Regions from separate parts of the Homo sapiens genome. Here region 1 is linked to region 2. Evidence: fine-mapped expression QTL. A gene starts in region 2. The other region holds a variant in brackets. All regions are shown on one strand. Distances are from middle to middle.

Region 1 (5,372 bases), 44 kb after region 2:
ACTGGTCTTGAACTCCTGACCTCAGGCAATCCACCTGCCTCAGCCTCCCAAAGTGCTGGGATTACAGGTGTGAGCCACCGTGCCCGGCCGATACAGTGTTCTTTAAAAGAAAAAGTATATCATTTTTCAGACTCTCATTTTTCTGTCGATTGAAACTTGACTGTAAAGTTGGTACTACCCTACCTAGGAAAATCAAAGCATAATAAAGCTTTGGAACCACTGCTGAGGTTGAACTTTCGATAAATGTCATTCTCTACAACTCCACAATGCACGAGAAGCTGAAAGAGCCACGAGCTAGTGCCATCAGGACAGGCTTACCTGGGGGTCCTCATGTGCCCTGCACCATGGATTCCTTTCAGCACAAGCCTGGGACTTCCTTTAAAACCCCACATTCTCAGTTGTTTTGTCAAAACTACATTTTCACTTATTTATCAGCAATTCTTCATTTAGAGAGAGCACTGGTTCAAACCCCATTGGCAATGTCAAAACCAAGTGCAACAAACGTTTATTAAGCATTTAGGAAATGTTATGTAAAGAACCTCTTATCCTTGCATGCCAGGCACTCTTTCAATCACTTCAGTGACATTTTTCCAAAATTCTGAACATCCACACTTAGGGTTTTCTTTGAATTTGGGGGTGCCCTCCCCCCACCCGGCAGCCTTCTGTGTCAGCGGGATACGATCTTGATATAGACACCATTTTTTGGACCTAGGGCAGATTTGGATTCTAGCTGCAGCGGTACCTAAAATAGAGAAAATTAAAATATTTGTCAAAGAGATAGTAGCATCTCACTGTACAAATGAAGACTTGGAGGTTCAAGAAGGCCAAGTCCGTTGTCCAAGGTCACACAAGAAGAAAGCAGAGAGCAAAGCCCCAAACCTATCTTTCAGTGACTCCAGCCGTCCCTGCTGATCCTCCCCATCTCACTCTCCAGTTCTGGCCAGTAACTGAGCAATGCCCTCTGGCCCAGGGGCTCTGGGGAAAGCAGCTTCATGCTGTTCCTGCTCATGTGTGCTGTGGTCTGGCCTCACTGACATCCAGAAAGCTTTCCTATGTCCAGCTTAAAAGGCAGAGCCAGTGGTGGACTGGGGACTTTGAAGAAAAACCAAAGAATTACTCGAGGAGTTGGGTTTCCTCTGGAGCTGAGTAAAATGATGAGCCAGTGGCTAATGTGACAGCAAAGAGTCACCAGGGTCTTAGTGCTTGGGGCTGTACGTGTCTCCTGTGGGAGCCATAGCCCTCAAAGGCATCTGAAAAAGCTGCAGGCCCCAGCACTTGTCTGAGCAGACAAGGAAGAACGGGGAGCCCTTGACTCCTGGCTGGTTCTTAAGCCGGGGAGTGCCAGGCATAAGCAGCGTTTTGGGAGACTGGTCTGGCTGCTGCACTGTATGTTGAGATCGTGGGGAAGTGAGACAAGCCCCGCACACGTGGAAGCCCCGATGCAGTGGGGCTGCTCCTCCGTCTGCCCCTTGACCTCACTTGGTTTGGCTCTGCTCTGCCGATCTGCCCCTCCCTGTCTCCAGCCCAGAGTATGTGGATGCGTTCACTTTCAGTATCTCAGACTCTATGTCCCCCATCCAAGCTCATTATTCCTCCAGGACCAGCAGCTGGTCCCAGGTTCTCTGTCAGAGGCACTGCCTGTCTCAATCTAGAATTGTTGCTATCTGTCAACTGTGTCCTTATGCCTTCCTATGCCTGCCTGTCCAGGTCTGCAGCTGAACAGTGGGTTCCGGGTGGCAGGACAAGCATGAGGATAGGTGCAGGGGACAGCAGTGGTCAGGATAGGCAGGGAATAGCTAACGCTGTGCAGAGACGTAGCCAGATGTCAGGAAGGAGGGAGAGCTTGGGAGTGGGCAGGATCTGGGTGAGGACCCCCGTTTCTCTCATCTCTGGCTGCTTATCCATTTGCTCATTAATGTTTGTTGAATGAATGAGTGAGCACCTGTCATGCGCCTGGCATTAAGCTAGATGCTGGAAAGTCCAACAATGAATATGACAGACTGGGTCCCTGCCATCACGAAGCCTGCAGTCCTGCTGTGTGGCCTTAGGCAAGTTATTTAACCTCTCTGAGCTTTGATTCCTCATCTAAAGAATGGGAATAGTCACTCCTACTCTGCAGGGTTGCTGTGAGTGTGAAAGCAGGGGATATAAGCTCCCTGACCTGTTGAGGAATTGGTCTGCTGGTTCTGGAGTGTGTGATGTGGGGGGGAGATAGGGCTGGAAAAGTGGGTGAGGCCCCATTTCAGGAGAGCTCAGCTCTCTGGGTGAGGACAGGGTCTGTGCACCAGTCTAGGACCTCAGGAATGAAGGCATATGTTGTTGGGAAGAGGCTGTGTCACCACCTGTGAGAGGGACCAGGCTGTGGCCATGGGGACACGTGAGTGTCTGCACAAGGGGGGAAGGCAAAGCTGGGGGTACC[G/C]TTCAAGGAGCTGAAACCCTTCAGCTTCCCCTCCAAGCAGACAGCACCTTGCTCTGTCAGGAGGAGCCAGAGGAAGTGTCCCCACCTTCTGTAGGACAAGCCATGCACCCCCCACCCCGCAAAGGCAGGCACATGTCACAACTGCAAATGCCATTGTCTGTGTGCCCTTTGTGGAAGTGGGAAGAGCTACAGCAAGGTGAGGTCCAGCCCTGGTGTGCAGAGAACAATACTAATAACAATGGTTAACACGTGCTCGGGTTGGCTTGCCAGGGCTTACCTGAGCGCTGTGTGAACTCACTGGATCCTCACAGGATGTTGAGAGGTAGAGGGTGTTATTATTATCACCCCCACTTTACGAATCAAGAAACTGAGGCCGAGAGAGGTTAAGGAGCTTGCCCAAGCTCACGGAGGCAGAGCCTGATGTTGCCCCCAGGCTGGCCTGCTCTCACGCAGAGAACTGGGGTGGCCCTCCCACCCCTGCCCCTGCCCCTGCCTCTGAGCAGGGGGGCCTCACCTGGGTCTCAGGGCAGGCTTGGAACCGGAACTTGTGCAGCACGTGGAGCAGTGTCAACTTGACCTCAAGCAGCCCTAGACGCACCCCGAGGCAGCTCCGTGGGCCGGCCCCGAAGGGCAGGTACGTGAAGGGCCGGTGCTGCTGCCGGGCCTCAGCCGTGAACCTGCAGGTCCGTGTGGTCAGGGCTGGCCCAGAACACCCGCTCCCTCCCCTCTGCAGCCCTGTGCTCCAGCTGAGCCACCCCTGCATCTGAGACAAGGATGTCTCCAAGGCTCTGGGAGCTGATGGCTGCTCATTCCTGAGCCTCAGTCCCTCTCTGCTCCTGGCCTCCTGTCTTCCTGCACAGCCCCAGAGGCAGAGCTGAATTCGCAGAATCACCTGGAATGTCCACAGCTCCCTCCCTGCCTCTCCTTAGGAATTCAGTGTGTGGCTAATAAGCCCACAGACTCACCGCCACCCACAATCAGAGTCTAAACACGGCATCCCTGAACCCCAGGGTTTGGTGATCACCCTCACCTGGGCCCATGGCGCCACCTCCCCTCCCATAGGATGACCCAGCCGCCACCTGCTTCCTTGGCAGGGTACCGGGCACCTCAGCACCTCCTGGGCCCTCCCTGGGGGGCGTGTCCTGCTGGCTTGCCCTGCAGGTCTCTTGGGCCACACTGGCAGCCCCTCTCCTGCCCGTGTTTGCTTTGCAGGCCCCTGCACTGGACACTTGAACCACTGGAAGCTGCAGTACCTGGAGAGCTGGAGGCCCTTCCTCAGAACTGCTGAATCTCCTACCAAGTAGTGCATTTGCCTGCAGCGTGTGTCCCATGACAGTGAAGCTAGGTGGCACTCACTGTTCTGTAACAGCGAGCTCACTTTTTACTACCCCTGGGCTTTATTGTGAGGCTGTAAGCCCTGTGGCTGCGGCACGTTCAGGAGCTGCTGACTGTGGAATATTGTTGTGTAGATCCCATTGCTCACGTTTTCCCAGTGACTGGGTCGTAGGCTTGGGCTGAACTCAGTTGGAGCCATGAAAGGTGAAAACACAACTGGTGCCGGGCCAGCCCTTCCCTTGCCAGATCACACACACAGGATATTGACTGGTTCTGATGAGGACCAGAGTGTGGGCCGCCTGCTCAGATGTTTCCAATCACAGAGCCCAGAAATGAAAGGAGACAATGAACCAAAGCCAGGTGGTGGAAGGCGGGGACCCAGGTCAACCAGTGGATCACGTGAATTTAGATTCATGGAGACATCAGCTGAAGCTGTTGTTTTGGCATAGATGCCCGTTTTTTAAAAAGGAAATGATGTTCCGTTACTTTCCAGTGCAGACCTGAAATACAATCCTGTATCCCATGTCCTGGCTTGAATGAATGGAAGACAATCATTTGAAATTGCCTTGTTCCTTGCATGCAGGGCTGCTGAAATGCTAAATCTCTGGATTCAGTTTGGACCTTGAAAAAATGGTATAATTATTTATTTATTTATTTATTTTTATTTAATTTATTTATTTTTTTTTAGACAGAGTCTTGCTCTGTCACCCAGGCTGGAGTGTAGTGGCACCATCTCGGCTCACTGCAAGCTCCGCCTCCTGGGTTCACGCCATTCTCCTGCCTCAGCCTCCCAAGTAGCTGGGACTACAGGCGCCCGCCACCACGCCCAGCTAAGTTTTTGTATTTTTAGTAGAGATGGGGTTTCACCGTGTTAGCCAGGATGGTCTCGATCTCCTGACCTCGTGATCTGCCCACCTTGGCCTCCCAAAGTGCTGGGATTACAGGCATGAGCCACCACGCGTGGCTAAAAAATGGTATAATTATTTCCTTTGGAAATTATGTCTTGCAAACATCTATCTGAATTGCCATAACTTTTGACTATTTGGGGACAATTTTGCTAAGTCTGTGCCTCCCGGCTGCTGCCTCCACTGGTAAATTTCTATCCCACACACTCACATCCCTTCAGAGCTTTTTAAAAGGGGCAGTACTCACCTTTCAGGGTTGAAGGTCTCCGGGCTTGGCCAGTGCTCAGGGTCATGGTGCAGGGCACCCACGGCCATCTCTAGCACAGCGCCTGCGGGGATGCGCTGCCCCAGCACCTCGCAGTCCTGAGCTGCCTCCCGTGTGAATCTGAGGGAAACACCAGGTCGGGGGTGGATACAGAGAAGAGATGAGGAGCAGAGCTTGGGGCGTGCTGGGCAGGCAGAGTCTGAGTGTGAAGGGGATCAGGGGCAGGCAGCATGGTGTGTGGAATGAGGCTGGGGACAGAGGACCCCCTGCTCAGCCCCCTTCCCAGGGTGACCAAGCCCCTACCCCATTACCACTCACTGCCCAGGAGCCTGCAGCCCCGAGGCTAGGCTCACTTGGTCCTTGATGAAAATGTACTCATCCATCCCTTCATGCATCCATTTGTCAAGCACAAAGGGCCCCTCTTGTGCCCCATGTCGGGGTGCAAACT
Region 2 (5,372 bases):
TTGGCCAGGCTGGTCTTGAACTCCTGACCTCAAGTGATCCACCCACCTCGGCCTCCCAAAATGCTGGGATTACATGCGTGAGCCACTGCACTCTGCCTAACATTTTAAATTAAAAATTAACATTTTAGGCTAGGCGTGGTGGCTCACTGTAATCCCAGCACTTTAGGAATCTGAGGTGGGAGGACTGCTTGAGGCCAGGAGTTCAAGATCAGCCTGGGCAACAAATGAGACAGTGTCTCTACAAAAAAATATAAAAATTATCTGGGCATGGTGGCACGTGCCTCTAGGCCCAGCTACTTGGGAGGCTAAGGTGGAAGGTTCGCTTGAGCCCAGAAGTTCCAGGTTGTAGTGAGCTATGACTGTACCATTATACTACAGCCTGGGTGACAGACCAAGACCTTGTCTCTAAAACAATAACAAAAACAAAATTAACATTTTATACAATGAAAACATTAAAATCACAATTAAAATCCAAGAGAAAACCCTTCATTCAATTTCCTAATTAAATAAATTCATTTTCATTTGTCCATGTTACTATCTAGTCTTTATCCATACACTTATTATTTACATTTTTGTAGTAATAGTACAGGTAATTTTTTTTTTTTTTTTAAAGATGGAGTCTCACTCTGTCGCCCAGGCTGGAGTGCAGTGTCATGATCTCCGCTCACTGCAATCTCTGCCTCCCGGATTCAAGCGATTCTCCTGCCTGTCTCCCGAGTAGCTGGGATTACTGGCGCCCGTTACCACGCCCGGCTAATTTTTACGTTTTTAGCAGAGACGGGGTTTCACCACGTTGGCCAGGCTGGTCTCAAACTACTGACCTCAAGTGATCCGCCCGCCTTGACCTCCCAAAGTGCTGGGATTACAGGCGTGAGCCACTGTGCCTGGCCTATAGTTAAGATTTTTATATTCATTTTTAGTGAATGTTATACCGTATACCGTAAGTACTCTCCCCCCACAATCCTTCTGCCTCTCATCTTCCCTTTTCCATTTTCCTAATACCTCCTACTGCCTCCTCTCAACTACCCTTGTGTGTTTCTTCATCTTTCTCCGTGCTTATTCAAAAATATCCTGCCACACACACACACACAGGCTTCTCTTTTTGTTATTCAGACATTTAAAAAAATTAATTCTTGATCATTCAACTTGATTATTTAGACATTTCTGTACAGCCATCTTTTCTCGTTTACCACCACATCATGGCTGTCTGCCCCTCTACATCCGCACACGGAGCTCTAACGCATGCTTGTTAAACAGCCTTCGTAATAGTCTTTAAAGATCAACCACACTGTTCCCACGTAACCCTACCTCCCAGGTAGGGTTCCCCCAGTAACACTTTCACACATAACTTATTTACTGTTCCTTTTACTTCTGGAAGATTCCGAGAGGAAAGATTGCTGGGTCAAAGGTCACACGCGTTTTCAATTTTAATAGCTATTCCTGGATTACCTCCTCAAAGGGCTCTAACAACTCGCATTGCTCTCAGCGTGTGAGAGGGTCCTTTGCTCTGAAGGGTCTTCTAAAATATTTGTTCAATCGTTACTTAGCAGGGGCTGGGAGTAACGGATTTTATTTTATTTTATTTTATTTTTTGAGACGGAGTCTCGCTCTGTCGCCCAGGCTGGAGTGCAGTCGCGCAATCTCGGCTCACGGATTTGCTCTTTTAAAGGACATACCCTTTTATGTTTAAATGAAGGAACTCATTGATGCACCGAGGCGAAAGGAACCTTTAATTAAGTGCGTCTTCTATGCGGAGTGATCGCTTTTGTCACTTGTTCGAGGGGTGAGAGCTCCCGTCAGTTGTCCCTGTTTCTGTGAGCCGTCTACGAAGCCCGGGCTTGGCCTGGGCGACGCTGAGCGGCTTTAACCGGCGGCGTCCAGCCGGCTCCGCCAGCGCTGCCGCCGCCCTCGAGGCTCCCTCTGACTGAAGGCGCGCTGAGCATCGCGGCATTAGGGGCTCCTGGTCCCTCAAACATCCAGGGAAGCCATTTTCAGGGACTAGGTACTGACCCCCGCGAGCCGCCACAGCCACAGCCCGCGCTCCGGGCCGAACGCCCGAGCTCAAGAGCTCCCGAGCTTCCGTCGGGCGGCGGCCTCACAGCTGGGGGCCCTGAGGCGGAAGGCGCAGCCGCTCAGCTGCGGACCGGGGGCGTGGCGAGGGCGCACAGGTTCTGTTTTTCGCCGGCCCGGGGCCGCTTTCGGTTTCGTTTCCCGCCGGCGTCTCCACCCTGCGAGAGCCGCCCGCCAGCCAGCGTCCGCCGCCGTCCGCGTCGCGCCACCCGCGGTCCGACGGGAGCAGGCCCAGCGGCCATGGCCCAGGCCGGCGTCGTCGGTGAGGTCACCCAGGTGCTGTGCGCGGCCGGGGGCGCCCTGGAGTTGCCCGAGCTGCGGCGCCGCTTGCGGATGGGCTTGAGCGCCGACGCGCTGGAGCGGCTGCTGCGGCAGCGTGGGCGCTTCGTGGTGGCGGTGCGGGCGGGCGGCGCAGCCGCGGCCCCGGAGCGCGTGGTGCTGGCCGCCTCGCCGCTGCGCCTGTGTCGCGCGCACCAGGGCTCCAAGCCGGGCTGCGTGGGGCTCTGCGCGCAGCTCCACCTCTGCAGGTTCATGGTCTACGGCGCCTGCAAGTTCCTGAGAGCCGGGTAAGGCGCCGCGCCGGGAGCGACGGCGGGCGGAGGTCCTGCGCGCCCTCACGCACTTCCAGCCCGCTTGGGGGTCCTACTTGAAGTTTGAGCAGACAATTCGGTGGCTCTGCCCTGACCTCGCACCGTCATTCACTAAAGCGAGCGTTTAATGAGCACCTGCGGAGTACCTGGCACAGTGCGAGGGACTCAGGGTCGAGTGGGGTCCTCTAGACGCCTGGGGGGAGAGAGTGATTTACATAGAGCATGGTAGTGCCGGGTGGAACACCCGGGTGTGGCCGTGTGGGGTGGGGAGGGAGGGAGGCGGCGGCTTAGGGGAACTCCACGACGCCGCGGGTCGCCCCTTGCCAGCTTTGAGGCCAGACAATGAAGGTTTTCTCTGCCCAGCAGCTGGTAGAGATCTTTAAACCCAGTTCAACCCTATTAATCTGCTTACAAACTGGAAAATGCAGACTCCCTGCCATCGCCCACAAGGTCCTGGGGCACTGGTCCCTGCCCACCCAGGACCCTTCTGTGACTGGAACACCCCCCCCCCCCCGGGCATTTCTGGGAGCCTGGGCATTTCTGGGAGTCTTTGCTCTGCCTGGAATGCCCTTCTTGCTCTTGGTTGGCCCTATTTGTTAATCCTTCAGGCCTCAACCTAAAGATCACATCCCATTTGAGGATTTTTCCTCCCCTTACTCTTGGTCACAGGGAACTGTTTATTTTCCTCATGGCACCCAGCTGCCAGTAGAATAGAAACTCCCTGAGGGCAGAGGCTCCAGCTGTCTCCCCAGCACTTAGCGTCCATGTTCTGTGCATAGCATGTGGCCAGTGGGATGTGTGGAAGGGATTGCTGAGGTTTATGCTAAAGAATTTGGGCCTCACCCTGGAGGTGATGGGGCGGGTAAAATGGCAGGAGAGAGCAACCATCAGGTTTGCGTTTTAGGAAGTCTAAGGTAGTGGTGTGGGTGCCAATTTAAGGGAGGATGTTGTGGGGGAACCACTGGGAAGCTAGTCATCAAGGAGAATTCCTTCCTCCCCTGCTCCCTCCTTTCTTGCTTGCTCCCTGTTTTGTGTGTGTGTGTGTATGTTTGTCTTAATAGAGTAGATATTTCTTGCTCATGTCAGGCCCAGTAGTGAGCATGGGGTGGGGGCCTTGATCCATACAGTCATTCAGGGATGCAGGCTGACTGACCTCCGCTCTGTGCCCCTCAGCACATGGCTCTTGAGGCCAGCCTAGGTTATCAAGTTCGAGGGGGCTGATCGAAAAGAGGGATGCATGGGAGGTTTTTGTGGGCCAGGTCTAGAAGTGGTGGATTTCCTTTCACCCACATCCCATTGACCAGAAGCTGTCTCGTGACCCTGTCTAGATGCAGGGTGACTGGGAAATGCCTCTAGGAAGCAGCTGTCTGGAAGTATCTAGATTAGAGCTTTCCAAGGGCTATGTGTGTGAGAAATTTGGGATAGCTGGTGACGGTGTGATGAGAGGATATGTGAGAGGTGACGACTCTTCAGTCTCTGTTCCTGCGGTGGCCTGGGTGTTGTTCACTGAGAGAGCAAGAGAGGGTTTTAGTTTGGAAGCATGCCCAGGAGGCAGCTGTTCAGGTCAGAAGCTTGGGAGGAAGGCCAGGGCCCCAATGCGCTGGGCTGGTTTGGGAGATATTGGGCGGTGTATGTTGTAGTTGCAGCCCCAGGAGTGGATCAGATCTGAGGTAGCGTCTGAGGCCTGAAAAGAGGCTGAGGGTGGAACTCTGGGGAAATCAGCCTTCAGGGATGAGGCAGTCCAGGGGAGAGCAGGGAACAACAGCCCACGAGGAGGAAGGCACACAGCAAATGGTGGCTGGATAGAGCCACTCATGGGGGTAACTGGTAGATCTGTTTCATGTTCATATTTGGTAAAATAAAGATGGCAGCCCTGTTCTTAAGCTAGTTCCCAAAATGTGGGGTCAGGTCTGACTTGTCTCGGAAATCTGTAGTGTGATATTTACTGGCTCAGATGACCTTGAGTTTTCTTCTTTCTTCAGTTTTCTCTTTTCCTTGTGGTTTACACAGGTGAGTTTCTTGAACCTTCCATTTCTGACTCACTTTAGGGAGAGTGGGTGTGGTTGGCTGCACTTTTCTGCTTCCCCTGTGACTCTGCTTGTCTTCCTGAACCGCAGGGTCAGTTCTTTTAGAAATAGCTCATCAGTCCTGCTGCAGAGCTGGTACGGAGTCCTGGGTGCCTGACTCTTAGTCCTCTACTCAGGAGGCATTGAGCCTGGTGGTCTAGGGCACAGTCCCAAGATCCAGCCCACCTTGTTTCAACCTGGGCTCTGCTCCTTGCTAGCTGATGGCTTCGGGCAAGTGACTTTACCTCCAGGTCTCAGTTCCCTCATCTGCAAAGTGGAGTTAATGATATTACTACCCTCACAGGCTGGTTGAGGACTGAATGATTAACTCATAAAACATTTTGGCAATCCCCGATATTTGGCAGTTGCTCAATAAATTTTAGTAGTCATTATCATTGTTACCATCAGTCATCGTTACACTTATTAGATATATTTGGCTCTGGCAGCACCAAATTATTTGCCCCTCTTCTGGAATGTTCTTCCTTTCTCTTGCTGTCTCCTCCTCACCCTTTAAGTATTCCACTCAGGCTTTATGCCATCCAGCATGCTCCCCTGATTTCTTCCCCAGTTCTCTCCCAGCCCTGACTGGCTCAGGTGCCCTTCCGCTCTGCGCTGACAGATTCTGACAACAGCTGACGTTGCACTT

Evidence for each region. PIP is the estimated chance that this variant, and not a neighbour inherited with it, causes the effect.
Region 1: its variant is the best candidate, but not a certain one, in a credible set for the expression of PARP12 in sun-exposed skin (GTEx, PIP 0.76).

What each region holds. Positions count from the first base shown.
Region 1 is chr7:140,015,395-140,020,766 of GRCh38, reverse strand. It overlaps TBXAS1 (thromboxane A synthase 1), which reads right to left. Exons shown (of 13, transcript NM_001061.7): 11 at 4,907-5,044; 12 at 2,934-3,096; 13 at 474-742. The coding sequence ends at 668. Among named protein-coding and RNA genes, the nearest start is that of PARP12, 45 kb to the left of the region's middle. RefSeq lists an enhancer at 3,529-4,029. The variant G/C (reference allele first, on the strand shown) is at 2,420.
Region 2 is chr7:140,059,786-140,065,157 of GRCh38, reverse strand. PARP12 (poly(ADP-ribose) polymerase family member 12) reads left to right here and starts at 2,207. Exons shown (of 12, transcript NM_022750.4): 1 at 2,207-2,636. The coding sequence starts at 2,311. RefSeq lists an enhancer at 2,060-2,269 and a silencer at 2,280-2,599.